Homo sapiens: one gene and its partners. The protein of the gene in region 3 interacts with the protein of the main gene of each other region in a pairwise test. Each region holds a gene or a part of one and is shown on either strand. Other genes may lie near its edges.

Region 1 (7,505 bases), on a different chromosome or scaffold from region 3:
CTTGCAATGCATAGGTGAGGAGAAGCAGAGAGCTTGTCATATGCAAGTCCTGTCAAGAAAACAGGTGGGCATGGTGGCTCAGGTCTGTAGTCTTTGGGTCTTTGGGAGGCCAGGGTGGGAGGATCACTTGAGCTCAGGAGTTTGAGACCAGCCTAGACAACATACTACGACCCTGTCTATACAAAAAAAAACTTCTCTAAATTAGCCGGATGTGGTGGTGCATGCCTGTAGTCCCAGCTACTCGGGAGGCTGAGTGAGGCAGGAGGATCACTTGAGACCAGGAGGTTGTGGCTGTAGTGAGTGATGATCATGCCACTGCACTTCAGCCTGGACCACAGAGCAAGACCCTGTGTAAAAAAATAAAATAAAAAACAGATTGGATGTCTTTCTTCTGATGTATTAGCTATTTTCATATGTTTTCTAACATACTTAATATCCTTACAGGCATTATGTGGATTCAGGGTAAACTTCTCAGACTGTGAGCCTGAGAGTTCCTCTCTAGGAGGCTCCACACCATTCTGCCTGCTAGATCGGGGCCAGATGAGATGAAAGTCAACGCTTGAGAAAGAAAACCAACATGCATTAACTGAAACACCGTCTTCACTTGTTCATCCACAGGGTATAGAGCGAGTTCCAAGAACCAGGCTAGGAAATGACACGCTAAGTTTCCTATTTCTAGCAGCTGCCAAGGCCACCAGCAAGCATGGGAACCTCTGGGAGTCACAGCTCCTCCGTCTCCAGAGGCCTGGCAGTGGCCAAGTCTAGAAGGACGCGGGTGCCACCTGGTACAGGGTGAGGGTGTGAATAACAGACCCCGAAGGGTTGCCACCTCGAGCCCCGTGCCTTGTCCAGGAATACACAGGCTCTTTTGATGTCAGGTAACTTTGCCATATGATCTTTGTGGTGTACCTGGTAGGTCACACCCTGTGAGTGTGTAGATGCCTCCTCCCGTGCTGGCTGCTTAATTTCTTCTGCACTCATAATCCTGACCATCTTGAAGATCATCACTGAAATACTCCTGTGTAATGTGTGGCTACAAAGTGCTATCTAAAGATGCTCTCTCAAACTCAGCTCATGAAGATGAGAGGAACATCACAGGGAACTGTGTGGCTTCTTAGCAGGCATCAGGGCAGATACTTAGAAATTAAAGTTGAATTTTAGAAACTTACATTTTATATTTTAATGCCCATCTTACATTTTAAGGTATTTTAGTGAGAAAAAGTTGCATCCCAAATAGTATTTCTGAATCTGAAAGGAAGTCAACTCCTCTGTTACTAGAAGTTCGTTCTTCTTTTTTTTTAGACAGAGCCATTCTGTCACCCAGGCTGGAGTGCAGTGGCACAATCTGCTCACTGCAGCCTCAACCTCCCAGGCTCAAGTGATCCTCCCACCTCAGCCTCCCAAGTAGCTGGGACTGCAGGCATGCACCACCACGCCTGGCTGATTTTTTTTTTTTTTTGGTAGAGTCTGGGTTTCACTATGTTGCCCGGGCTGGTCTCAAGCTTCTGGATTCAAGCGATCCTCCCTCCTTGGCCTCCCAAAGTGCTGGGATTACTGGTGTAAGCCACTATGCCCAGCTGTAAGCAGTTCTAATTCAGCACCAACTTTCAGGAGAAGACCAGTTGTATGATTCCATAAGTGTCAAGAATTATCCAGCACCTTGTTAAAATTTCATTTTAACCAACTTAAAGTAACAAATCTGTGCAATCATGGTAGTGATAATTAATCAATTGAGTTGATGGCCAAGTCTGTTGGCCTCTCCCTGTGGTAGCATTGTTCCTACTGTAGTGTGCTACCTCAGGAATTCAAAGGGCTCAAGTTTCTCAAAGGTATAAAGCAGAAGCTTTAAACATCCCCCAAAATGCAAGCTTGCTCTAACTTGTTCACCAGGAAGAATTATAGATTACATCTGTTTGCCCAGCCTTATCATTTTCACTTTATGGAACCTCACAACTCTCCGTAACCTTTATCGCACGTTATTTGCTGGAGATGGCGCCATGCTCCTTTCATGGATTAGCTGACATTCCTAATAGGCTGGATATTTTAGGCTGTTTTGCAGGCTTAGAAACAGAGATTTGGGGCCAGGCACGGTGGCTCATGCCTGTAATCCCAACACTGGGAGGCTGAGGTGGGTGGATCACCTGAGGTCAGGAGTTTGAGACCGGCCTGACCAGTATGGTGAAACCCCCATCTCTACTAAAAATTACAAAAATTAGCCAGGCGTGGTAGCACATGCCTGTAGTCCCAGCTACTCGGGAGGCTGAGGCAGGAGAATGGCTTGAACACGGGGGGCGGAAGTAACAGTGAGCTGAGATGGTGCCACTGCACTCCAGCCTGGGCCACAGACTGAGACTCCATCTCAGGAAAAAAAAAAAAAGAAAAGAAAAGAAATGGAGATTTGGCAAAATTAAGTCACTTGGGATCCCAGGAAATTGGAATCTGAGGCTGAATGAAACCTCTTAGTGGGATGGTTGAACATGTATACGGCAAATTATGTTGCAAGTGGAAAATGTGAAAAACACAATAGAGCCTGGCATGGTGGCTCACACCTGTCATCTAAGCACTTTGGGAGGCCAAGGGGGAGGATCGCTTGAGGCCAGGAGTTCAAGACCAGCCAGAGTAACAGTGAGACCTCTGTCTCTACAAAAATGTTTTTAAAATTGGCCAAGCAGTGGTGGCTTACACCTGTAGACCCAACTACTTAGGAGGCTGAGGTGGGATCACTTGAGCCTAAGAGTTCAAGTGAGCCCTGATCATGCCAGTGCCTCCAGCCTGAGCAACAGGGTGAGACCCTGCCTCTAAAAACTGAACAACAAAAAAAATCAGTAGGGTGTCAGCTACGGGAGTTACTGTTTCGGTGCAATCAGATTAGGATGAGAGGATCTGAACTGATGAGCATTGCAGTAGGTGAAAGACGGTAAGTGGCCATTTCTATTAGCATTAAATAGTCACTGATGTGGTTTCATCAGGATTCACAATACATGTGTGGCTCCCAAATTGAGTTTCAAAGTCTTGGGTTCATGGTGTCCCCTGCCCAGCAAAATAAAGTGCAAATCTTACGGAGCAACACATTTTAAGTTCAGGCCTCAAGTACTTCCAGAGACAAAAGTCCTGGGGACACTGGCTCAGAATGGGGGAAAGGGGACCCTGGGCCAAGAGTCAACCAGGATGACATGCAGAATCAGACCTGCAAGGGCTGCAGATACTGTAGTTATGAGGCACACCCAACGCTTAAAGATAAATATGTGGTTGGAAGTATAAGAGCCTATTAAAACTGCTAGAATATAAGAAATCAAATAGGACAAAAACAGAATCATTGGCAGGGTGCAGTGGCTCACGCCTGTAATCCCAGCACTTTGGGACGCCGAGGGAGGCGGGTGGATCACTTGAGGTCAGCAGTTCAAGACCAGCCTGGCCAACATGGTGAAACCCCGTCTCTACTAAAAATACAAAAAAATGAGCCGGGCGTTAATAGCGCGTGTCTGTAGTCCCAGCTACTCAGGAGGCTGAGGCAGGAGAATCGCTTGGACCCAGGAGGCGAAGGTTGCAGTGAGCCGAGATCGCGCCATCACACTCCAGCCTGGGCGACAAGAGCGAAACACCGTCTCAAAAAAAAAAAAATCGGTGCAATTAATAACCCAGTGGATGGGTTAAACAGATTGCACGTAGCTGAAAAGTAACCGAAAATCTGGACTGGCGCGGTGGCTCACGCCTGTCATCCCAGCACTCTGGGAGGTCGAGGCGGGCGGATCACTTGAGATCAGAAATTTGAGACCAGCCTGGCCAACATGGCGAAACCCCGTCTCTACTAAAAATACAAAATTAGCTGGTCTGTAATCCCAGCTACTCCGGAGGCTGAGGGAGAAGAATCACTTGAACCCAGAAGGCGGAGCTTGCAGTGAGCCAGGATCGCGCCACCGCACTCCAGCCTGGGCGACAGAGCAAGACTCCATCTCAAAAAAAAAAAAAAAAAAGAAAATCTGAAGCAGTCAGTGCAGTAGGGAGAAGTGGGCGAAAGGAAGGAGGCCACGCTGCTGGGTTTCAGGATGAGATGGGCGTTGAGGGTGCATTCACAGAATCCCGGGAGGAGCCAGCTGAGCGGGGAAGGCATCAGGAGAGGGGAGGCACTGAGCGGGGCGCGGTGCTGTAGGGAACGGAGGCTCATCAGGGCGGCCGGGATTGAGGCGCAGGCGCTGAGCCTTCACCTAAGTCCGCCGAAGTGTGCAGAGCCTGGAGACGGGATCGAGGTCACCGGAAGCCCACGGTTGCGGGGACATGATCAAGCTACAGCGCGCTGGGGGAAGCGACCACTGCCGCCCCGCGGATCCCACCGGCCTGGCCGGGAGCTCCCTCTGCCCGGCTCACCCGCGCTTCCGGCCCGAAGCCCGGCTTCCTCTGACGTCACGGCCCCTGCGCCCCCTGGCGGCGCGGCTGCGGCGGGACGCGCGGGCACCGCCCCCTCCGGCTGGAGGGCGGGACTTCCGGTGAGTGAGTGACGGGCGCAGCCTCGGCAGCGGCGGCGGCGGAGCCCTGAGGCGACAGCAGCTGCGGGAGGCGACGGGCTGCGGCCTGCGGAACCTGAGGCAGCTGGGGAGGGCCGGGCGCGCCGGCCGGATAGCGAGCCGCGCTGGCGGCGGCGGTGGCCGCGATGATGGAGATCCAGATGGACGAGGGCGGCGGCGTGGTGGTGTACCAGGACGACTACTGCTCCGGCTCGGTGATGTCGGAGCGGGTGTCGGGCCTGGCGGGCTCCATCTACCGCGAGTTCGAGCGCCTCATCCACTGCTACGACGAGGAGGTGGTCAAGGAGCTCATGCCGCTGGTGGTGAACGTGCTGGAGAACCTAGACTCGGTGCTCAGCGAGAACCAGGAGCACGAGGTGGAGCTGGAGCTGCTGCGCGAGGACAACGAGCAGCTGCTCACCCAGTACGAGCGTGAGAAGGCGCTGCGCAGGCAGGCGGAGGAGGTGCGTGGGCCGCGGGACCCGCCCGCATCCCCGTCCCGGACCCCCAGCCAGCCCCGGGCCCCGGACCCAACACCCGTCCCGACCCCAGACCCCGCTCCGGCACCCCGGACCGCGGGACCCCTGGACCCCCAGACCCCGCCCCGAGACCCGCCTGGACCCCATATCCCCCGCCCCGGGACTTCCCCACCCCCTCTGCCCGCCGTGAGACACCTCCCTAGAGCACTCCCCCGCCTGCCCCGGGACCCCACCCCGACTCCCGGGGACCCCCTTTTCCGCCCAGGCCTGGGCCCTGGCCCCCTCCTCCGTGCCCCCAGCCCTGAATCTTCAGCCCCAAACCCGATGTGCCTGGCGTCATCCCCGGGGAGCTCAGCTTCAAAGCCAGGCCTCACTCTCCCCTCCCCACCCACCTCTGCATGACAATTGCCTTTGCTTTCGTGCGTGTGTTCAGTCAAAACCGTTTCCCGACCCCAAGTGCTACCTCTGTTGGCTGCCATTCTAAACCCATCTAGAAAAGGAATCTTTTGGTGTTCTTAGGGGGCTGCAGCCGTCTGTGGATGATGTTGGAGACCTTTCCCTTGTCCCTAATCCCGTATTTTGAAGGTCTGTGACACGGGTGAATTGGGTGGTTGATGTAAACACAGAACAAGGCCGCAGGCGGGCTGCTCCTCTGTCAGCAGAAGGAACACTCGAGTTTCTGGAGGTGATGTCTTTGCCCCCTTGGTTCCTTGCTTGGCGAGATTGTTAGCTGATGTAGCCAGGGCTGAGAAACTCCACTCTGGCTTCTGAGGAGTTAACAGTCTGAGTTTGAAGCGTTTAATTCTGTGCTAGGATGTCTCCATAACCTGGAAATCGCTTGTCTGTGAAGCAGTTACAAGAGCCGGGCCCTGTGGGGAGCACCACTTAGCTTCATTCATTCACCGTCAGATACTGAGCTCGGCCTGCCTGTGTGTGGGCCCAGAACCTCGCCCTTTGTCAGAAACAGGTTCAGGGAGGCTGGTTCCCATCCCTGCTTTGCCTCTGTGACCTTGGCCTGTCGCCTGCCTGGGGTTCGATTTTCCATCAAAGGAGTGAATTGCACTAGGCGATCTCCAAGCCCAGAAATTCTCTCATTCTAGGAGTTAGGTAATGCTGTTTGACTTATGAATAGAAGTGTCTTAGGAAATGAGCTTCAATTCCTTTTCAATTAATTCGGCTTAACACATTCTTGACTTTAATAGGAAAATAAAAGATTGTGTCAGTATTTTGGCTTTTTCTGAAACCAAGGTGATTTATGGCCTAGTTTGGTTTAAAGCGTGTTTATAAAAATCATAACAGTATGTTGTATCATTCCTCCTTTCCTGTGGTTTCTATTGCGTTTGGGCTTCGTGTCTGTCGCGAGGTGGTTATGCATTGATTGGAATGCCCCGGTTCCAGCAAAGCTGAGTTAAAGCTCTCAACCTAAGGGAACGCAAAGGTTCATGGATTTTGGAGCTCAGGGTGACTATAGGCATTTTACTGGGAAGGAAACTTGTCCTGAGAAGTGGAGGGGCTGAACCAAGGTCACCCACCCCAGAAGTGCCCAGCCAGGATGCAGAGTGAACCCGACACCGGCCTGGGCACTTGCTTCCATGTCAGGCAGCTGCAGGCACCGGAGGGCTGCTCCCCAGAAGCCTGGAGTGCCAGGGCTGCCCTCGCTCAGCTGTGGAGCTGTGGCTGCCCCCTGTGCTGGGCACCGCCCTCCACTGCTCTCCCACACTCAGTGGCCTGACCTGGATTTCAGGTGGGTTTCTTTTTTTCACCTTGTACCTGTGTGGTCAGTATAGTGGACGAGAAGGAACTGAAAGGAGAAAATCAAGATGGACAACGTTAAGGCTAGGAATTATAACCTTGCCGCTTAAAAATGAGCTGTGCACAGGATAGGCGCTGCCCAGCTCTGTGCGGTTCACATGCAAGCTGCTGTGAGTGCATCTGCCCTCCCCCAGGGCTCCTGCTGAACCAAGCTGGCGGGTGTGCGTGTGGTTTGCAAAGCTATCACCTTTAGTCTGAGACCCACCATTGCCCCAGCGCTTTAGAGAAGCTGCACCGAGAGCTTCGGGAGCCGAGCCCCGAAGCCAGCCAATGCTTGGCCAGCATGGAGGCTATGATTAAACGCTAACGGGGCGCCCTTGGAAAGACCTCAGGGCTTTACAACTAAGGAAGAGGGCTCGATGCTGTCAACATTTGGCATGCCTACTCCTCTACTGAATCAAGCAGACCTTCATTTCCAACTTTGTAGACCATTGTGCCCTGTGGGTCGGCGTCTTTTCTAGGCAGGGACTTGTGATCACATAGACGTGTGTCTGATAAGAGGGGAGCGGGACGTCACACGCTGCAGGCGTGTCTTGTTGCAGAGGAGCTCCTGGGTGAGCTGTCAGCAGAAGCTCCGTCCCCAGCCACTCTGCTCAAGAAGGCTTAGTCAGAGATGGGTAACCTGAGCCACTGCAGCTTCTGAGCAGACAGAATCCGCAGGGTTTTATAAAAACCTGAGCAGAGCAGACATCCCTGTTCCCATCTTCTTGCC
Region 2 (7,564 bases), on a different chromosome or scaffold from region 3:
AAGGTCCTCCACGAACTCTGTGCTTGGGCCCAGTGTTAGCCTTGCAGAAGCGCCCAGAAGAGCCAGCAGGCCCCAGAAGCCAGGCACTTTCAGGCTGGGGCTTGGGTACACAGCACCCTAACCTTCCCTGGGCTCCTGAAGCCCCAGATGCCAAACCCCTCTCCAAACAAGGGAAAGGCCAACTCTACACTCTGGAGCAACTGTCCCAGCTCGGTGGGGCTAGCTGGCTCCGGGAGGTCCCAGCTGGTCAGGCTGTGAGCTTCTGCTCCTCCCCACCAAAGCCCCAAAGTGACCTTAGCGATCAAAATGGTCAAGGCTCTCCTCCCCAGCCACCTCCATTTCACCGCCCCCTTCCCCCCACCCAGCTTCTGTGTATGTTTAGCCCCCAGCTTGGCCCTCTGAGGGCTGCATTCAGGGGCTAAAATGAAGGTCATTGTAAGTGAGGGTTTGGGTGAGCACAGCATTTGCAGGCCAAAGAGGCAGCACTGCCAAGTGGCCTGAGCTGGGTGGAAGGTGGGGGCGGTGGCAGAGATCTTGGGGGATCCCAATGAAAGAGGGGACGCGAAGAAAAAGCATAGGGGGGCTGGGAGGGAAAGCCAAGGAAGGCCCAGATCCGGCAGAAGGTGCTGCGCACCCCTGCCACTGTGGCCAGCTGGGTACCTAGGGCTCTTTGAAAACAGGAAGAGCCGAGGTGTCATAAAGCCATCTAGCGGGCCAGACGTCTGGAGGTAATGAGTTTACGACAGGCCCAGTGCTTTGCTTTGAAACCATCTCATTTTGATGTTTGTGTTTGTGGGAGAAAAGGAAAAATGCAGACAAAACTGGGTCTTAAAATCTAGACAATAAAATATAAACAAGACTGCGTTGGACCAAGAAGGCAGGGGCATGGGAGCCCCCAGGTGAGGTGTGAGCACCTAGGAAGTAAACATGAAAGAGGTAGGAAGGAAGAGGTGAATGAATTTCTGATTTTTGAAATGAACCAGGTAATGGAAGTAGCCTAAGGAGATGGCATTTTACAATATTTTGACTATGACCACGGTTTAGCTGGTTCTTTAGAAACAAACAAACAAAAAAATTGGCCTGTTATCTGGGGATAGGGTGGTTAGTGATCTTAGGTCATTTACCCAGGTGAGAGTCTCCCAGAAGTGTGGTTCGCGGGAAAAGATGAAGTTAGATGCCTATTCACAAGAATCTCTGGCCCTCCACTCCAAACTTTGAAGCAAAATGTTGTTGAAATTTATGTCTATTCACTTATAAAAAAATACAATTGTTACACCTAAACTGGAGGAAAGCAGTTTTGAAGATGAGTAAAAAGATTAACCTAACAGGAAACACTTAAGCCAATTGAATAGTCATTGCTTTTAAAAAAAATTCTAGTGGAATGCTTAGTTCAATGACTTTTGATATATATTTTTAAAATCCCATTTATTGTCCATAGAAATTCCAACAAACAGAAGCGCAAAGGGACTTTCCAGACAGCCACTCAGAGATCCAGCAAAAAGCTTTTGATTTGGCTTCGATTCCCCCCAAAATCGGCCACCTAAGTGGGCCCCAAAGCATTAAAGTTACAGTGTTAAAGTAGCAAATATTCATGATTTAATCCTAAAAGTAACAGCTGTAAGAGAAAAACAAAAACATAACAATACTTGATTTCTGTAATTTCTTGGTTGCCAAAGTGTCTGGTTCCTCTGGAAAATAAAAAGCCTCTTGGCAGTTGATATTTAGAAAGTTGTAGGTTTTGTTAAATCTAGCCTGTCCTATAATTGTTTTAAAAGGCACAGCTGGGCGGTTACAGCATGGGGACTTTTGGTGTCTGGCAAAAGAAGGGCTGGAAGCTTTTGGAAAAGACACTACTGGAAGCTGTTGGGAGCACTGATTAGAATATCCTAGGCATACAGGAGCTCCTGCTTGCTGCTCTTGACTTGTTGACAGTCACAGGAATGAAGCATTATTAGTGTCAGCAGTCCAAGCCCCAAATTGAAGAACGAGATTAGAATTGGTTTGAGATGAATAAAAATTAAATTCAGTGGACTGGAGGTGGCATTTGGCCACTAGAGAGCGCTGTTGCTCCACTTTCTGATCTCGTAAAGCTGGAATTGCGGCGGAGAAAGGTTTTGATTAAAAATATTAACAATCTTATTTTTAATCCGAAATTAGGATAATTTTAACCAAAAATAAACAAGGTGTACTATTAATTTCTGTGTTTGCTGGGCATAAAATTTTGGCTCGATCATGGCTTCAGAAACTTTGGACTGTGGCACAGCTGAAACTATAAAACATGATAAATTAATGTATTATATCAAAACAGAAAGCTGTAAAAAGCATAGATCTTTTCTTACTAAGTTAATCGCGCTCTTTTTCTACTCATATTATAAACGGAATGCTTAAATAAATGTTAAAAACTGTTTTGTCCCAAGAGGAAATGTTGTAACGTTTTCTAAATTTGGCCTGAATGTCTATAAATGAATTTTCTAGTGTTCATTTTTCTTTTATTCCCCCGAGGAATCACACAGTTCTACAAGATGCCTGGTATTGTTGAGATCCAGGCTCTTTCATTTTCCCCCCCCCCATTCCATTCCAAAATCCACTCATTTATCCAGGGTTCAAACACACACACACACACACACACACACACACACACACGCCAAACTGAAAAAAAGGGGCACAATTACAAAGGTAGCTCCAAGGCTTTATTGACAATAATAATCTTTTAATTGGGCATTTGCAAGATTGAAGGACAAATCCTTAATTGTCAGAATCAATTCGTTCGCCTTCGGATTTAAAGAAAGTCATTATACTTGGCAATAACCAGCAGAAAAAAAACCCCACAAAAACAAACAGCAACAACAACAAAAAAACCCTTGCTCTCCACCACCCCAAGTCTGCACTCCTTACTAATTTAAAAATTAAATAAAGCATGCCTCTGTCATCTCCAGATTCATTAACGATTCCTTTACCTTTCAGTCATTCCCAGTAGAAATAATTGAGTCGGACATTATCACCTTGCTATGTCTGTCCATCTCGATCTCATTTTCTCCATTTGTAAAAATGATATTTCAGTCCACCCGGACACAAGTCAGGATCGCGCTCGCAGGCTGGGCCAACCCACAAGGAGCTAGGGGTAGCTGAAATCGCTCGCCAGCCTGCAGCATCTCTGAGGCCGTCTGGGGTTTTCGGAAATTTGCATTTGGTGTGGAAAGCCGGCGTGGTGCGTTTAGCTTGAGCAGGGGCGCCTTGGAGGTCTATTTCCAAGGCTGTGGGCCTGGCGCCCTCACGACATTGTACCTATCCCGAAGGAAACGGGGCTCAGTCACCCAAAGAGCCCACGAGAAAGGCCGAGCAGGAGAGGGGAAAACACACACACACAACAGAGAACCATTGCATTTATTGGACATTGAAACGGGAGCAGAGAGGGAAAGGAAGTGTGTGGGGAGGCGGTTGGTAGGGTAAAGCCAGACAGCTTTGGAGAGAGCTGCTAAAATCGGGAATATTTTGTCGATTCACACTCGACTGGGCCACATGACTCGGGCAACTTTTCTTCATCTCTGCTCACAAACTAGGCTGAGCCTTCTCTTTCTCTGCTTTGGGAAAAATTCGTAACTTTGAGGCCTGCGCGCTCTCTCGGCAGTAATTTCACAGGCTTGGCGGAGGAAGTAGGATCGTTAGCATAAGATGGGCCGCCTGCAGCTGCCTGGAACCGGCGCGATCTGAACGCCGGCTGGGAGGCTCCTGGGGGGAACTTGCGGTCGTCTGCCCTCCGCACTCCTCCGGGAACCGCAGCCGGCCCTGGTTCGCTGCGCGCCGGGGCTGAGACCCGGGAGCCGCGTCCTGCCCGAGGAAATGTCACCCTCCCCAGCGCGAGCCCTTTTTCCCGCCTCAGAACGTTTCTGTCCGCTCTTCTATTTACTCTCTCAGCAAGCCTAATGCCCCCTCCTGCATTCTTCAGCCTCCCCCTGCGCCCAGGGCTGACGTCTATCAAGGGTGAAATGATGGAAACTATATTCATGGGCATGATTTCCATTAAATATCAATTAACCTGAGAGCCTCGGCCAGGCTTGCGGTGCGTCAAGGGTAAATGTACATCTCATTTCCACAGGGCCCGCTCGGCTGGAAAAGAAAGGCTTTGATTTGCTTTGATAACGCCAGGATCTGGGGCCACACTCGCGGCTTTTAATTAAACCACTTCGATATGCCCCAACTCAAATGCACGGTCCGGTCCGTCAACACCTCTTGTCCACGTTCCCTGGGCTGCACCCGCGTGTCCAGAGCTGCAAAAGCCACGGGCAACCTCTGCTTTTGCAGCCAGGGGCTCGGGGAGGCAGTCATTTGCTCCGCAGCCTCCTGGGAGTGGCCTCCTTGGCTCCCCCAAGTCTAAGGCTCCGCCGCGGCCCCTCCCTGCCGGCTGCGATCCGCATTCCCGCGGCCCCGGGGCACACGGAGCCCTTGGCAGTGCGTCTTTATGGGCCCCCTTTAAGGCCGGCGGAGGCATCTCGGGCCGGGCGCGGCGCTCCGTCCGTCGGCCGTAGCGACTGAACTGCGCGCGGATCCCTCCGCGGGGCTCCTCGTCCCCGTCACGCTGACTTTCCGTGCAGTGCTGTGGTGCGAAAATGCCTCGCCGGTGCGCACCGGGTCGGCAGCCTCGGCGGCGGGGGCGAGATTGGCGGGAGGGGGGCGCGGGGGGGGCGCGGTAAGAGGTGGCGGCGGGCAGAGGGTGTTTTTTTTCTTTTCCCTCCAGAGCCGGGGTTTGTAAACCGAGGCCAGAGTGTCCCCGTGGGCCGAGCGCACTTTTTTCTTGTCCGGGTGCGCTCAGTCACTGGTGCCTGAGAGGAAACAGTGGAGGCAGCGGGGCAGGTCGCCTGGGGCGTCGGCGATTATATTGCGGCCGAGCCGGGGCGCGCCGGGAAAGGCCGGGAGGGCGGCGGCGCGCGGGGGCTGGGCGAGGCCCCGCGACCCGCGAGGGAGGCGGCGCGAAGCCGAGGCGGCGGGCGCAAGAGCCGGGCATGAGCGCCCAGTAGCTGAGCGCCCGCGGCTGCCTGGCCTCAGAAGCGACGCGCGAGCGCGGGCGGGCGGCAGCAGCGACGTAGCCCGGCGGTCCCGGCGGCGAGAGCAGCCGCCCCACAGGCCCCCGCGGCAGTGCGGCCGAGTCGAGGCTCGCTCTCTGGCTGCTTAGCGCCGCCCGCCCGCCCGGGGCCGCCGCCGCTGACGCCCCAATGAGTTCGTACTTCGTGAACCCGCTGTACTCCAAGTACAAGGCGGCGGCTGCGGCGGCGGCGGCGGCGGGCGAGGCCATCAATCCCACTTACTACGACTGTCACTTCGCGCCCGAGGTCGGCGGCCGTCACGCCGCCGCCGCAGCAGCCCTGCAGCTCTATGGCAACAGCGCCGCCGGCTTCCCGCACGCGCCCCCGCAGGCGCACGCGCACCCGCACCCGTCCCCGCCGCCCTCCGGGACTGGGTGCGGCGGTAGGGAAGGCCGGGGCCAGGAGTACTTCCACCCCGGCGGGGGCAGCCCGGCCGCTGCCTACCAGGCCGCCCCCCCTCCTCCTCCGCATCCTCCGCCTCCGCCGCCACCTCCCCCCTGCGGCGGGATTGCCTGTCACGGGGAGCCCGCGAAGTTTTACGGATACGATAACTTACAGAGACAGCCGATTTTTACGACCCAGCAAGAGGCCGAGCTGGTACAATATCCTGACTGTAAATCGTCCAGTGGTAATATTGGCGAGGACCCAGACCACTTAAATCAGAGCTCGTCTCCTTCTCAAATGTTTCCGTGGATGAGACCACAAGGTTGGGATGCATTTTTTTTTTAAGAAGGGAGAGGGGGAGAAATCTGCTTTCATCTCACGTTCTGGCTTTAAAACTCCCGTTCCCTCTCCCCCTCCTTTTCCTTCTTGTGTAGCCACAGTGGCTCTTATTCATAAAGTAATACAGACTTTTTTTAAAAAAGTAGGAACCATGTAAAGATGATGGGGACAGAATAATTGTGAAGACCTCTCTGCTCCTCTTGCCTGCACACCCTATATATATATATCGGAGCTAAAGAGCTCTGTGTATATTTCACCCCGTAGACCCCCGTTCCACAAACCTCCAGCAACATGCAGAGGTACCATAACATTTTTAAAACTTTTATTCCCCCCCCCTTTTTTTTTGTTTTAATCAGCAGCTCCTGGTAGACGAAGAGGAAGACAAACCTACAGTCGCTTCCAAACTCTAGAGTTGGAAAAGGAATTTCTTTTTAACCCCTATCTGACCAGGAAAAGAAGAATCGAGGTTTCCCACGCCCTAGCCCTCACCGAGAGACAGGTAAAAATCTGGTTCCAGAACAGGAGAATGAAATGGAAAAAGGAAAACAACAAGGACAAATTTCCCGTTTCCCGGCAGGAGGTGAAGGACGGGGAAACGAAAAAGGAAGCCCAAGAGCTGGAGGAAGACAGAGCCGAAGGCCTGACAAATTAACTTCTACCTTTAAAATTTACCACAGACTATTAAAACTAATAATCACCATATGCTGTGGACACCACCTATTTTCTTTGTTGGAAAGGACCTTACCTGTGTTTCAAGCTACCTTCATGTCACTGCTCTTGAGGTTTTCTGTGCTTTGAGAGGGATTTGGGTGTTTAAAAAAGTTTCTAGTATCACATAGAAGCTGTCCTTGAGCTGTCCTATGGAAGGGTAATTTGATACTGACCTTGTAGCTATATTTTTATAATGGTTTTTAATGTCTGAGCTAGTGATTTGCCTCAACAACGTAAACTTCCTAATGATTAGCACTTAATAATTGCATATAAAATGCTTTATTAATTAAACAAGTGCACTTGAACATTTTAATATTTGTGGTGAGTAAATTAAAAGGAGTTTATTAATTAAAAAAAATTATGTCTGCAGAATACTTTATATTATTTGATTACAATGTATTATTTATGGATTTTTTATTCTTTCCTTTATAATGAATAGTTCGGGTGCGTTTTGTTTACTCCTAAAAGGTTTCTTTGCGTATTTTCTAAATGTAATATCTCGGGGAAAATATTAGAAAAGCACGTATTAGCTGAAGAATGTAACTTGTAGTCCAGCTCTGCAGCTTCCTTAAACTTAAGAAAAAGATTGGGCCAGTGACAAGAATTTAAAGACAATGTCCAAGTTGACAATTATTTTTCTATAGTCCATACAAATTAAATAATCTGGCAACTCTGGCAAATCGCCTTGTAAAATGCGTCTCATTTTTTAACTTGCTTTCGTTTTGAACCGCCCTTGTAATCGCCTGAAATCGCTAGTTCTTTATGCGGTGGCTGCCGCTGTGTTCCGTTATTTTCAGTAGGTGTCATATTTATTTGTATTGCCTTTGTTCTGTTCGCCGCTGGTTTTAAACCAGCTTGCTGTGTGCATCTCAGACGTCGGTTGGTACGTCCTCCGCTGTTCTTCAGGAAAGCGATAGCCTCACCTATTTGAAACAAGCCCTGAGAGGAAACGCAGAAAAACCTGAGTGTAAACAACTCCGGAATGTCGCTAGCTCCTTAGTAAATAAATGAATCTCTTTCTGGAGCTAGTGTCTTTGAGCGCCGCAAAT
Region 3 (7,021 bases):
TGTAATCCCAGCACTTTGGGAGGCTGAGGCGGGCAGATCACTTGGGGTCAGGAGTTCGAGACCAGCTACTCGGGAGGCAGAGGCAGGAGAATCGCTTGAACCTGGGGTGCAGAGGTTGCAGTAAGCTGAGCTCGCACCACTGCACTCCAGCCTGAGTGACAGAGTGAAACTCAGTCTCAAAAAAAAAAAAAAAAAAAGAGTGGCAGTAGTGGTGGGGGAGACCCCCATCCCCCTTGCTGGGGTTTCCTAGGAAAGAAGGCTGGTGAGAGCTGTTGCTGGTGGTGGGCCCTGAGCCGCAGGGTCTGAGGGCCTACCCTGTGCTACCCCAGAGCTGCCTGAGAACTGGACAGACACGCGGGAGACGCTGCTGGAGGGGATGCTGTTCAGCCTCAAGTACCTGGGCATGACGCTAGTGGAGCAGCCCAAGGGTGAGGAGCTGTCGGCCGCCGCCATCAAGAGGATCGTGGCTACAGTGAGCACCCCAGTCAGGAAGGGTGGGGGAACCAGGGACCAAGGACCAGCTTCTTCCCAGGGTGCCCTCGTCCCAGCTTGTTACTCCAGTTGGGTGTGTCTGAGCCTGGCCCTGCCCTTCATTCTCCTTCCATCCAGCTTTTGGGCCTTGGCAGAGGGGAACCATTGGACTTGCAAGGTCACGGTTAGTGGCTTCCCTCCAGCCATTATGGCCTCTTCCAGCCTCCCCACCCCCAGCTCAGGCTCCCTACCAATGCATTGGTGACTTATCAGCACCAGGAAGGGTGGGGAGTTTGCTTTCCCTTGACTACCTGCCCAATGGCCTGAGAGACAGCATAGCCCATCAGAGAGCAGATTGCCCCCTCCCTAACTTTGAGCAAGGGTGGGCCTTTTAAATCCACTTCCCTTGGTGGCCTCAGACCCCTCAGCTCAATGGATGGAGCAGAGTACTCAGGAGTCATCCTGCTGGGTTGTGCTAGCTCATTCAGTGCCGAGTCTGCAGGCCCTTCTAGCTGTGTGTCCTTGGGTAAGTCCCTTAGCCTCTCTGAGTCCATCTCTGGGGAGAGGGAGGATGACTCCAGGTCCACGGTGCCTGACAGATAGCTGGTGCTCAGCAGATGCTGCTCCTGTTTCTATTGCAAGAAGGTGCTGGCTGAGTGGTCTTGCCCACACTGCTGCCAGTCACCTGAGCTGAGATGGGCCCCGTGCCTGGGGCTTAGGAACAGTGAAGTGTAAGCCATGAGGGTGGGTCTCAAGTGAGGCTGGCAGACTCCTCTGACTCCTGTCTGCTCCCAAGGCTAAGGCCAGTGGGAAGAAGCTGCAGAAGGTGACTCTGAAGGTGTCGCCACGGGGAATTATCCTGACAGACAACCTCACCAACCAGCTCATTGAGAACGTGTCCATATACAGGTACGCTCAGCATGGGGTTGGCCCATCCACTCTGCCACTTGGGGCAGTGGGTGGAGTATCCCATCTGAATCCAGGCTCTACCACTTCCTACCTGGGTGACATTGGAGCCTCAGTTTCCTCATCTGTAAAATGGGGGTGGGAACAGATCCTGCTGCACAGCGCTGTTAGGAAACGTGGAGTGCACGGCACCTGGCTCATGATGAGCATTTGGTTAAGTGGCAGCTGCTGCTGTCATCATCACCAGTTGCAGAAGACAGCTGAGCCCACCCGTGCCCTTCCCCCCTACTCCCCACCAGCATGCCGCTGAGTCGGGCTTGGAGCAGAGAACTGCAGAGTCACTGCCTTTTCCTTCTGCTGTGAATGCAGCAGCTCAGCTCTGGGTATCTGGCCAGACATTCCAGGGAGGCCTCAGCCAAGGTCTGAAGTCAGAGTATAGATGGTCTCTCTAGTGGGTCCTCTGGTCAGCCCTTAGAGCCTCAGACTATCCCCACCTCTCTCGGCTGGTCAGTTGTAGTTTTTCAGAACTGGAAGGGACAGCTCAGGTCCATTTTACAGATGGAGAAGCTGAGGCCCAGAGAGGGAATTGCCTAAGGCTGCACAGTGAGGTAGTAGCTAAACTGGAACTAGGATATCCGGGCCAGAGCCCTGTCCAGCAGGCTCCCGTCTGCCTGGCATCCCTCCACCCTCTTGCTTTGTCTCTAAGCAGATGGCTCAGCCCGTTGGTGCACAGGCCAGTAGTAGGGTCAGTAGATGTGTGTTGTGGGGGTCTGGCTGATGTCTTCCTCTCACCGGCCTGATCATACCTGCCTTCCTTTAGTCAACAGTTTCAGATACCTATTCTGCCAACGTCTGTGCCAGATGAGGACTCCAATCCTGCTCATTGCCCTCAAGGAGCTTCCACTCTAGTTGGGTATAGTCGGGAGGAAACAGGAGATAGAGCATAGTGTTCCAAAAAGGCAAGGAGGAGATCTGCCTGGGGAAATCCCGGAAGGCCTCCCAGGGGAGGCGGCACCTTGCTGGGGCTTGAAGAATAATAGGATCTAGTTTGTTGTTACCAAGGACCCAGTAACATTTAGAGCAGGAAGCTGGACCCCCTGGGATGGAGAAGAGGTAGGCAGGGACCTAACACCTTCACGCTCTGCCCACCGGGGTGTTGATGCCTGTGATTGAAGCTGGGGCCACATGGTTGAGGGGTGAGTCTATGGCGCTCCTGTCCCACCTCTGGGTTGAGGGGTGAGTCTGTGGTGCTCCTGCCCCACCTCTGGGCTACCGGCCCCTCCCCGATTGAGACTCTGAGGCTGACTGGAGGCAACGAGGAGGGACCAGACAAGTGAGGGAGGGTGGGAGGCCGAGGGCTCGGGTGGCCCCTAGGTTACAGGTGCGACTGGGGGCAGAGAGGGTGCTCCATGCAGAGGGAGTTGCTGTGTGTCTCCTCCCGGGCCCACTGGGGCTCCTTGTTGGGTCCTCGTCACACACGCACCCCACCCCTACTCCCAGCTCTTCACCCCTGGCCACAGCTCCAGAACTTGCAAGTGTCCCAGTCACCCTGAGAGAGATGGACCTGAATCTCACCAGACCTCTGGGCAGGGGCATGGATCGGAGGGCAGGTGGGGTGGGGGAGGCCAGGTGAAGGGCATTGGTGAGCAGGGGAGTGTCCTGCTTTCTGCTTCCCCTTCTGGCCAGTTGGCACACAGCCTTAAGAGGCAGCATGGCAGTCATGGCCTCTGGAGTCCTACAAGTGAGTTCAGGTCTGGGCTCAGGTCTTTAGCCTCAGTTTACTTCATCTGAAAAACATGGATAGTGATAGAACCCGTCTCAGAGGGTAGCTTTGAGAATCACATGAGGTGAGGTCTAGAAAGCTCTTGGCACATTGCCTGGTATGTGGTAAGGGTTCAGCTATTACTGTTTTGGGGTGTGGCTCAGTGTGGGATGGGAGGGAGAGGGGGAAGTGCCCTGCTTCCAGTCTTTACCCCATTCCTTCCTTCCTGCCTGGCCTGGGCCCCTCCTGCACAGATGGCCTAGGTACCCAGCCTGGAGGCCAAGGCTGGATTCCCAGAGTCTGCCCTGGTGGAGTGGGAATAGCAGGTTCTCTGCAACTCAGGGGAGCTGCCCTGCAGGGCTTCCCACATGTGCTCAGGCCCCTGTGCCAGGTCTGGTGATGCTTCCTCCTTGCCTTTCAGGATCTCCTATTGCACAGCAGACAAGATGCACGACAAGGTGTTTGCATACATCGCCCAGAGCCAGCACAACCAGAGCCTCGAGTGCCACGCCTTCCTCTGCACCAAGCGGAAGATGGTCAGCGGGGAGGGCTGGGGCGGGGACAGGGTCCAGTGGCCTTGGCAGCCTTGCTCTGGGTGGGGGGCTGTCTGGTGTGGGAGGCAGGACCCAAAGGTGACCATTACTTAAGAAGAGGGTGAAATCTCTGGGAACCCCAAGTGGGTGCCGAGAGCTAAGGGGTACAGTGGTGGGGCTGCAGGCAGGCAGGTGAACCGCCGGTCAGCTTTGTGTGGGCAGTAGCTGGCCCATGTCCCCAGTGTGTGTCTGGGCCTGTTCTCTCTGTAACGGGATTTGCTGGGTTGAGATTGTTTTGGATCTCCTGTCTTTAATATGGTCTAGGGATGCAGGGCCTTCTGGTGATTGGTCCTCGGAAATGGGAGATCAGGGGGGCCTAGGGTGGAAGGCAAAGGCGAGAGCCGTCAGAGAACCAGGCTTGCTGTGACTGGAGTGTGGAGGGCAATGGCTGTTTCTTGGTGCCTCCTGTGAGTTCATTCCAGCTGTGACCAGAGTGTGGAGGACAGTGACCGTCTCTCGGTGCCTCCTGTGTGTGCATTCTAGTGCTAGGCTTCCAGGTCTTCACTCGTTTAATTCTCACGGCTCTGCAAGGTGGCAACTGTTACTCTCTCCATTTTTTTTTCTTCTTTTTTTTAAAGTTTTAATGAGGAAACAGACTCCCAGAGGCCAGCTATCTTGCTGTCAGGGTTAGAGTGGGGGTTTAAACCCACGTTTCTTCCCCTCCCTGCGTGACTGGGGAGTTCAGAGCTCCTTGTCTCATTTCCAGGACACCCCCTGACCACATCTTAGCTGGGATGAGTGGGAACCTTGGTGGTCACGGGGGATTTGTCCTGAATTTGGGGGCAAGAAGTGGAGTGGGTCAACCTTTGGCATTGCAGCTTTTGTTTCTGAGACCCCCAGGATCTGAGCATTCTCCCTATAAGGTGCTTCCTGACATCCATTGATGTAGCATTGACACCTGTTAACCTCTGTTGACAGCTCTGAGCCCCAGTCCCCATGCCCTATAGCCCTTGGAACCTAGGAGACAAGATCCCCTTCCCTCCCCTGTCATCAAAGGACATGTCAGGTACATCACAGTCTTTGTGGTCCCCAGGCTTCCTGCTGCCCATCAGGACACACTTTAGATATTGTGTAAGTTGTAACAAATGATCGCAAATTTAGTGGCTTAAAACACAAATGTATTCTCTTATGGAGAAGAAAAATGTATTCTGTGACAGAAGTAGATCAGGAGTCTAAACTAGGTCGGCAGGATTGTGTTTTTTTCTGGAGGTTCTGGGGGGAATCCATTTCCTTACCTTTTCTACCTCCCAGAGACTGATCACCTGCATTTCCAGGTTTGTGGGCCTGTCCTCATCTTCCGAGCCAGCAATGTAGCATCTTCTGGTCTCCTGATTTCATCGTCACATTGCTGCTTTTAGCTCTGACTCTCCTACCCCGCTCAGCACTCCTTCTGATGACATTTGGACACTCTGAGTAATCTGGGATAATCTCCATCGCCACATCCTTAACTCACTTCTGTAAAGCCCGTTTGCTGTGTAAGGCAGCATTCACGGGTCTCAGGGATTAGGATGTGGACATCTTGGGGGCGGACACACGATTCAGCCCACCACAGGTGTCATGGAAGAGGCACTGTAGGAGGAGACAGTCTAGCGGTCTCCTGGCTGATTTGCTGTGTTACCTTGGAGAAGATCCTGCCTTTCTCTGGGCTGCTTGCCTATCAGCAGAATGAGAAGGTTGCCTCAGTGACCTCCAGGGTTGTTCTGAAAGGCCCCGGGTTCTTTTGAACACCTTGTTTCTTTCCTGCAGACTCAGTGTCACTGGCCACTTGCCTCGTGAGGTCCCAGGGCTCCAAGTTGCTGTGGCATCTCCTGTGAGTTCCCACAGATGTGACTCGTGGCTTTGTCTTTTAGGAGGCCACACAGACTTAAAAATACAGCTCCTTATGTCCCCATTGTTCATCTCTTCCTGCCCGCTGACCAGGGCAGGCCCTGGGCAGGGACAGCTGGCCCTGGGTGGGAGGGGCCTTCGACGGTGCAGAGGCTTCCTCTGGGATGAGGGGTCTGGGAGTAAGAGAGAGGTGCAGGCCCAGCTCTTACAAGGGAGACCTGGCCTGTGGTCAGAGAACTTCACACAGACTTGAGTGAAATCAGCCTACCCTCAGGCCATGAGGTCAGTTACGAGGAAAACAGAGCCAGGCCGCTGCTCAGCCACTGACTGCAGAGCCCTGACCAGGCAGCAGAAGGGCCCCTGCCAGACACCCAAACTCTTCATCTTTCTTAGTGTATTCTTCTCAGGTTGGGTTGATGGCTGGAGTGGTTTATCCATCTCCCTACCCTTTGCTACCTGGCCTCCCTGCTTCAGGGGCCCTGCGGAGCCCTCTCCAAGACAGCGCAGCCCAGCATGGTGTAAATACATCACCTGCTACCTCAAGGTCTTAGCCCAACCCAGGCTGACAGTGTGTTGGTGGCCTAGACATGTTGGAAATCCTAGATTCTTGGGCTAAGTGGAAGTGTTCTTGGGGGAGGCAGGAGATGGAATAGCTGCGTCAGCCTCCGCACCTGCTGGCAGCTCCGCCACAGAGGTTTGGCACCGTCTGTCCTGGCCTGAGCCATGGAGAAAACATCCAAGGCGGTAGAGAACAGCCCAGCATCAGTACCTGGAACCCAGGGGGGCTTAGTTCTGGGGTGGTAGTAAATCTCACTAACTTCCCTGAAGTTAGAGTCAGTGAGACTTCCCTGAGACAGACACCTTGAATGGGGCTTTGAAGGCTGAGGAGCCAGGAGGAGTTTGCCAGGCCGAGAGAAGGGGGTGGGGTGGTGGGTGGGGAGTGCACACCAGCATGGGATTAACACACGTGCAAACGCAGAGGGGCGAAGTGAAATGGTTCCCCTGGGGTGGGTGGTGAGGCAGCTTCCGTTTGCAGTGGGCCTTGAATCAGGATGTTGAGGGCCTTGAATCAGGATGTTGAGGGCCTTGAATCGGGATGTTGACAAAACGTCAGTCATTGTGGCTGGGGGCCTCCACATCCCTACTCTTCCTGGCTGGGCTGCCGGAATGAGTTCATGACCCATTGAGGTTGGGGGAGAAAGGCTCCTTTCTACATCACCCACCAGTCCGTTCAACTCTGGGGCAGCACAGCCACCCCAGGTCTCCCCTCCCTGGTGCTGCTGGGCACAGCCAGCATAGGGTTCCTCCAGGGAATCCCTTCCATCTGCCCAACCGGGAGGCCTCTGGGCTCCAAAGTGAAGGTGTCATGCAGGTGCTGGGCCTGGGCTGATGGTAAGCAAAGTGCTACCCCCATTTCCACCCAGGCAGCACGGGGCCAGGCTGCTCCCTCCCCCATGACCAT
Region 4 (7,021 bases), on a different chromosome or scaffold from region 3:
CATCCTACCTTTCCATTCAGGCAAGAGCAATTAAAAAACAGAAGGAAGACATCTTTTAAACACACAGTTACACAGTGCCCCCTGCACAAATGGAGAGCACAAACAAGACAATTGAATGGGTCCTCCTTTCTGTTCGGGTTGCTGCCTGGGAGCCAAGACCCACAGGGACATTTTGGCTGCTGACCTGGTAGGAACCTACCTCTGGGGGAGCACTGCCCTTGGAGCACTGGACTTCCTGGAGAGGGGAGGATGAGGTGATTGGTCATGGGCAGACTGGCCCCCGTGGGGAAGCCTTCATATTATAATGATGCTAATTCTCTTCTCCAAGCCTCGGTCTTCCCCGTCTTCTGGCCTGGTTGTTGTGGAGGGAGAGTTCTGAGGATCCATCCCATCAGTGTGTCTCTCCATTTGTCTGTCCATTCATCTAGCCATCCCCTCTCTTATTTTCACAAATGTTCTACAACGCCGACTCTCAGTCAAGGAGGCGCTGTACAGGAGTTTGAGTGACTCAAGTGAATTCAGGAATGTCCAAGAGAATTGATCAGTGGGGCAGGAGGAGAGAATGATGCTTAAGAGAGCTGTAACCTGGGTTCGCACACCAGCTCAAGTCACAGGGGGGCCTGAACCTCTTACGTCAACGCTAACCTTTAAGTTTCTAATCCACTTGAACTAAACCCCTCAAGTCAATGCTGATCTTTAAATTTCAAATCCAGTTGAACTAAAGTATGCCCCCAGACCTTGTGGGTCGGAGTGGTTGACAAATCAGTTACATAATGTGACTATGCCATTCAATATTTTCATACTGAGACACAGTGGCGAACAGGAAACATAAAGAACCTGCCATCTTGGTGCTTACCTTCTAGGCAAACTAGAACCACGCGGGTAAACACACTGGCAACTACACACCGGGATAAACGCTCAGAAAGTAAAAGCGAGGGGTGGAGTATAGTCACATTGAGTTTAATTGGTTTAAAAAGTCATAGCCGGCCAGGTGCTGTGGCTCATGCCTATAATCCCAGCGCTTTGGGAGGCCAAGGTAGGTGGATCACCTGAGGTCAGGAGTTTGAGACCAGCCTGATCAATATGGTGAAACCCCATCTCTACTAAAAATACAAAACTTAGCAAGGCATGATGGCGGGTGCCTGTAGTCCCAGCTACTTGGGAGGCTGAGACAGGAGAATCGCTTGAACCTGGGAGTCAGAAGTTGCAGTGAGCTAAGATCATGCCACTGCACTCTAGCCTGGGTGACAGAGCAAGATACCGTCTAAAAAAAAATGTCGCAGCCAGTCAAACTACATGCCTTGTCCCCACTGAATACCTGATCTGTCTCCACCCTTCCTGTCTCCATTGCCTTGGGCTCCCCTCCACTGACCAGTTCCTCACCCCCACCCCTCCCAGGCTCCTCAGGTGCTGCAGGCCCCAGAGATCTGCTCTCTTCTCTTTGCTCGGAAAGCTGCTGCAGCCTCTGGTATTTATTTTTTTTCCTCTGAAAAAACCCAGCAAGGAACGCTGGTTTTTTTCTGGGAAGGCAAGTCCAATCCTCACTTGTATCTAGTATCAGCATTAGCGTGTACCTAGAGGGCTGCTTTATGTACATATACATATCTATTTGCAAGTACATATGTGCAAAGAGAGACAAGTGGGGTTTCCTCTCATCTTATGAAAAATTCAGGATGTCCTTTCTAGCAGGCCCAGCCCCGCATTCCCACTCCCATTCCCATATTGGCACGGGAACGTTTCTTGCCAAGTGAGTTGACTGATGGTGAGAGAAGGTGGGTTGGCGTTATCCTGGCAAAATGCTCTGGGGCTCATAGGGCCATGAGGCTGGCACTCATTCAGGTACAATGTGTGGAGTTGGGTGAATGAGAACAGGAGAAGGGATCAGGGATTTTGCATGGCAGGAGAACTATTTGGGCCCAAAGACCAGGACTTTACAGAGACGTGGAGGGTGGCTTTGGGGTCTGGGAAGGGAGGCAGTTGAGTAGAGCTAGGGATGTCCTATGTTCTGGTACCTGTAAACCAGGTGCTTCTCCCCAGCTTTCCCCTCTATCTCTAAATAAACATGTCTTCCTAGTCATTTATTATACCCCATGGGCTGGTGTCTTGAGGAGGCGCAGTGGGATGTGGTGGGGTGAGTCACCTCCTTGCTCACACTCGGTTGCTCTCCACCAGGCAGGTTTGGGGAGGGAGATTTGGGGTCCAGGGTGTTTTCCCTAGTATAGACAATAGATCCTGAGGCTCCTCATCCCTTCTGCCTTAGAAGTAGAACCGTCTCAGGCCTCTTGCCCAGAGAGCACTGAGGGTGACAATGGGCAGCTGCATGGGGAGCAGAGAGTGGTATGGACTTAAGGAGTAAACCATACAAATCCTCTGCCTGTTACCTGGAGGTAGTGGTGGGAGGTGGAGAGGCAGAACCTAGAATGATGAGTGAAGGCTGGATCCATAGGAGAAGAATGAAAGGCAAGACTGTTAATGGAAAGGGATTCCAATCCAGACCCCAAGAGAGGGTTCTTGGATCTCGTGCAAGAAAGAATTCAAGGTGAATCCATAAAATGAGGGCAAGTTTATTAGCAAAGTAAAAGAATAAAAGAATGGTTACTCCATAGGCAGAGCAGCGCTTGGGCTGCTGGATTAAGGATACCCGTATCTTGAGCCGACCTCTTATCTCATCCTGTGACTTAGAATGCCTAGCTTCCCGGGAATGCAGCCCAGTAGGTCTCAGCCTTATTTTACCCAGCCCCTATTCAAGATGGAGCCACTCTGGTTCAAACATCTCTGATGAGACCAAATCTGGTCCATTTGATTCAGAGCATCAAGTACAAGATTAAACATAAGAAAGGGCCTCTCCTCTCGGAAAGTCAGCCTGTTGGGGAGGCTGCCTTAACTAACAGGTGGAAGGGCCCTGAAGGCCGGTCAGGGACCATTCCGGGTGGGCTGGAACATCAGAATCCTGAGGGTGTCATCCAGCAAGTCTAGATTCTTGTTATTCTAAAACAGGAATGCAAGGGTTGGGTCAGAGGGAGGGGTAAAAACCCAGAAAGAGATTTCTTTTGGAGGCACTTTTAGAAAAAGGATACTTTCAAGGTGAATAAGAAACTGAAATGCATACTGGCCCTCCTTCCTTCTCTCAGGTGCCCTCCAGAAAAAAGGCGTGGGGCAAAGCAATGTTTTCTAGGTGACCTTGAATAACAGCTGGACCCCCTGACCTTCGTGAGAGAGCGCTGAGGGTTACCATTTACTGAGTGTCTAACAGTGGGCCAAGCCTGGGCTGAAGGCCGCGCGAATCACCTCCGTTAACCCTAGCTCCCCACTGCAGTGGGGCTCCCAGATGCTAAGGAACTTTCCAGGCTTATCCACTCAGTTGTATGTGGCAGGACGAGGGTTTGAGCTGCAGTCCATGTGGCTATTGATTCAGCTTATGTTCTCTAGTGCTGGGCAGGGAGGAGCTGACCCCCATGGGTTTGTTATGTGTGCTGGTTAGGGCCCTGCATGCCAGTCAAGCTCCTGTCCTACAGCCTGCCTGTGGGAGGATCTCAGTGTGAGGTCTGGAGCCCTGGACGAGGCCACCTGGGCTCACTCTCTTCATACTGGAGCAGGGAAAGGGCAGAGAGAGCTGCAGACCGGAAGGTGGATGGTCTGGGGTCGGAGTCCGGCCCCTGTCACCAGCTGTGAGTCATTAAGCCAGACTCAGGCTAAGGCTTCCTCATCTGTTAAACAGCGACACGCAGGGGACTGCTCATCTTTCAGGTGCGAGGTTGGGGGAGTGGTGGGTGGGGACAGGCATGGTTAACTGCATGTGGAAGGGGCTGTTGTTCTTGGGTATCTGGAAGTCACACGTGGTTATAAACTGGGAGCATGTGTGTGTTTGTTAATAGTCTTGCTCCCCAAAATATTCTAATATAGCTCACAAGCACGCACGTAAGCCTTCAAGATAGAAATCTGTGAGTGAAGAAAATGAGGCAAAGGGAAAATAAGAAAAGACAGCTGCTGGGTGCAGCGGCTCACACCTATAATCCCACCACTTTGGGAGGCCAAGGTGGGCAGATCACTTGAGGTCAGGAGTTCGAGACTAGCCTGGCTAACATGGTGAAACCCCATCTCTACTAGAAATACAAAAAAAAAAAAAAATTAGCAGAGCATGGTGGTAGACGCCTATAATTCTAGCTACTCGGGAGGCTGAGGCAGGAGAATCGCTTGAACCCAGGAGGCAGAGGTTGCAGTGAGCCAAGACTGTGCCGCTACACTCCAACCCGGGTGACAGAGCGAGACTCTGTCTCAAAAAAAAAAAAAAAAGACAGCTGCCAGGGGAGTGCTTACGACATGCCATAAGGACCTGTGTACTTGACCCTGCACTTCCACTTTGTGGAGAGCCAGCACCATGAGACAAACAAGTTACAAGCTTCACAGTGTGCTTTGGATCAAAACAAGCCAGCTATTCTGAGGAAGCAGGGCTGCTCTGAGAGCCGTGTAAGCGGTGGGCTGCATGCAGGGGATGGAAATGCATGCTTCTAGAAAACACCCTGCGAGGTTCCTGGGCTCATCTGATAAGGGCCCACCCAGAGTGTTAGTGCAGGCTGTGCACACAGCAGCTCTGGGCAGATGTGAGGCAGTTCCAGGCAGACATGGCTGCCACATCCCAGCCTCTTCCTCCCTAGAAGGCAGAGATCTCCTCCCCATGCAGCAGGCAGTCTGCTGGGTGGTAGGCAGCAGGGCTGAAGCATCCTCCCTTCATGAGGGCTTGGGCTGAGTTAAGCAGAGAGCCCCTTGCTGCTTCCACCTGGGCCAAATTCCAAGCTGCCAACAGCTTACAAGGACAAAGAAGCAGGCTGTGAGCCAGCCTGGTGAACAGGGTAAGGCCCCAAGGATAGGAGCCTTGGAAAGTGGAAGTAAGGCAGGCTGTGGCCTTCATGTCGTGGGTGCCTGCTTCTTCCATGAGTCTGTTGCATTCTCCTCACCTCGTCTGTGTCTGTTTGGCTCCCACATGCTTTGGTTTACATGTCCTTTGTGGCTTGCAGCTGCTTCCTTGATACCTAGAGGCATTTCCGCCTTCAGTTCCTGCTGCCAACCACCTCGGTCTCCACACTCTCCAATCCAAATGCCCAAGAGAAGGATCTGATTTGGCCAGTTTGTTCTTTTCAGCTAAGCCACATGGGCTACCTTCAGCCAACAGATGGGTGTCTTTGGGGCAGGTGCTGCCCTGGTGCAAGTTTAGAGATTGTGGGATCAGATGGAATATGTGGTACACTCCTTACTCCCAGCAGGGCTGTGGAGGGCAGTGCTAAGGAGCAGCAGGCATAGATGGGGAAGACACTCCAAACACATCTAACACACTACACACGTGCCTCCAGAGGCTGACAGCCCTTCCCTAACCTGCACTTGCTTTGGGCATTTCCAGGGTAGATATGGATTCCCAGTTTCTCCAGCGGCCAGTGCTCCCCCTAGTCCACACAGTGAGACCGTGAAAGCAGATGCTCCGGGGCACTCCTGGGCAGCTTTTGCTCAGTGGATGATGGGTGACTACAGACTCCCTGACCACCCCCAGCCCATGGAAATTCTCAACCTGTACTTGGGAGACAGCCTGGAGCCCCACCCAGGAGAGTGCCCAAGGGAAACGTGCAGCCATGAGGATCCACCGGAGCCTTTCGAGGAGCAAACCTGGGCCACTGACCCTCCTGAACCTACCAGACAAAATGTTCCTCCCTGGGGCTCCGGTGTGGAGCTCACACACCTGGGGAGCTGGGTCCATCAGGACGGGCTGGAGCCTTGCCAGGAGCAAACCCGGGCCACTGACCCTCCTGAATCTACCAGACAAGATGCTCCTCCCTGGGGCTCCGGTGTGGAGCTCACACACCTGGGGAGCCCCTCTGCCCAGAGGGAGCACAGGCAGAACACAGCATCACCAGGGTCACCAGTGAACAGCCATCTACCGGGGAGCCCAAAGCAGAACCGGAGCACGTCCACACAGGTAGTGTTCTGGGCAGGCATCCTGCAGGCCCAGATGTGTGTCCTAGACCTGGAGGAGGAGCTGGAGAAGACGGAAGGGCTCAAGGCTGGGCTGAAATGCTGTCTCCCCACGCCCCCTGTGGACCTCCCCGGGGACACGGGCCTGCACTCCAGCCCACCTGAGAATGAAGACTCAGGGGAAGACAGCAGTGAGCCTGAGGGAGAGGGCCAGGCATGGCTGAGAGAGGGAACCCCAGACTCTTCCCCACAGTGGGGAGCTGAGGAGGAGAGCATGTTCTTCAGCAACCCCCTCTTCCTGGCGAGTCCTTGCTCAGAGAACAGTGCTTCTGGAGAGTGCTTTTCCTGGGGGGCTTCAGACTCCCATGCAGGTGTGAGGACTGGACCTGAGAGCCCAGCGACTCTGGAGCCTCCCCTCCCAGAAGACACAGTGCTGTGGGAGCTGGAAAGTGAGCCAGATTTGGGGGACGGCGCTGCTATCAGTGGGCATTGTACCCCTCCATTCCCTGTGCCCATCTATAAACCACACTCCATCTGCTGGGCCTCAGTGGCTGCCGCTGAGGGGGCTCCTGCAGCACCTCCTGGTCACGGGGAGAGTGAGGTAAGCCCAGTCTTGGGAACCAACCGGGGCTGTGCTGGGAACACAGAAGGGAGGGTCTTCCTCGGGGGTCACCAGGCCCAGAACATTCTTTTCTGACGCTAAGAGCTTTGGGGATAACCTGCATCAGTATATAGCAGGGTAATAGAGCAGAAAATCAGGACCAGTGTTGTCTTCAGAATGATAGGACATTTTATCAATGCCATGATGTCAGCTGATGTCAGCTGATAATTAAGTCCATAAATGTCTCCATCTCACCAGCTCCAAGGGGCCATGCCTAGATACGTTTGGAGAACAAACAGCTCCTCCAATTGCAGCATGTTCCAGGCCATTCTCAGATTCTTCCCCTCCCATCTCCAAGACATTCCCAACTGTAACAGGGCAGCGCTCAGCCTGCAAGGGTGACCTTTGCCCCTAACAGAGAGATGCCTATTTCAAAAGTCCAGTCCTCTCTCTTCTTGA

Evidence for each region.
Region 1: the proteins of LDLRAP1 (region 3) and MAPK8IP3 interact in binary tests that used the Homo sapiens proteins (3 or more experiments, as listed by UniProt).
Region 2: the proteins of LDLRAP1 (region 3) and HOXD8 interact in binary tests that used the Homo sapiens proteins (3 or more experiments, as listed by UniProt).
Region 4: the proteins of LDLRAP1 (region 3) and PSD4 interact in binary tests that used the Homo sapiens proteins (3 or more experiments, as listed by UniProt).

The regions. Positions count from the first base shown.
Region 1 is NC_000016.10:1,701,692-1,709,196, forward strand, and holds the start of MAPK8IP3 (C-Jun-amino-terminal kinase-interacting protein 3), read left to right. Parts: upstream 1-4,503; 5' UTR 4,504-4,648; coding exon 4,649-4,966; intron 4,967-7,505.
Region 2 is NC_000002.12:176,125,157-176,132,720, forward strand, and holds HOXD8 (homeobox protein Hox-D8), read left to right. Parts: upstream 1-4,548; 5' UTR 4,549-5,210; coding exon 5,211-5,787; intron 5,788-6,160; coding exon 6,161-6,456; 3' UTR 6,457-7,539; downstream 7,540-7,564. UniProt on the Homo sapiens protein: Sequence-specific transcription factor which is part of a developmental regulatory system that provides cells with specific positional identities on the anterior-posterior axis.
Region 3 is NC_000001.11:25,553,593-25,560,613, forward strand, and holds part of LDLRAP1 (low density lipoprotein receptor adapter protein 1), read left to right. Parts: intron 1-329; coding exon 330-472; intron 473-1,267; coding exon 1,268-1,380; intron 1,381-3,560; coding exon 3,561-3,675; intron 3,676-7,021. UniProt on the Homo sapiens protein: Adapter protein (clathrin-associated sorting protein (CLASP)) required for efficient endocytosis of the LDL receptor (LDLR) in polarized cells such as hepatocytes and lymphocytes, but not in non-polarized cells (fibroblasts).
Region 4 is NC_000002.12:113,176,951-113,183,971, forward strand, and holds part of PSD4 (PH and SEC7 domain-containing protein 4), read left to right. Parts: intron 1-5,395; 5' UTR 5,396-5,506; coding exon 5,507-6,562; intron 6,563-7,021. UniProt on the Homo sapiens protein: Guanine nucleotide exchange factor for ARF6 and ARL14/ARF7. Through ARL14 activation, controls the movement of MHC class II-containing vesicles along the actin cytoskeleton in dendritic cells. Involved in membrane recycling.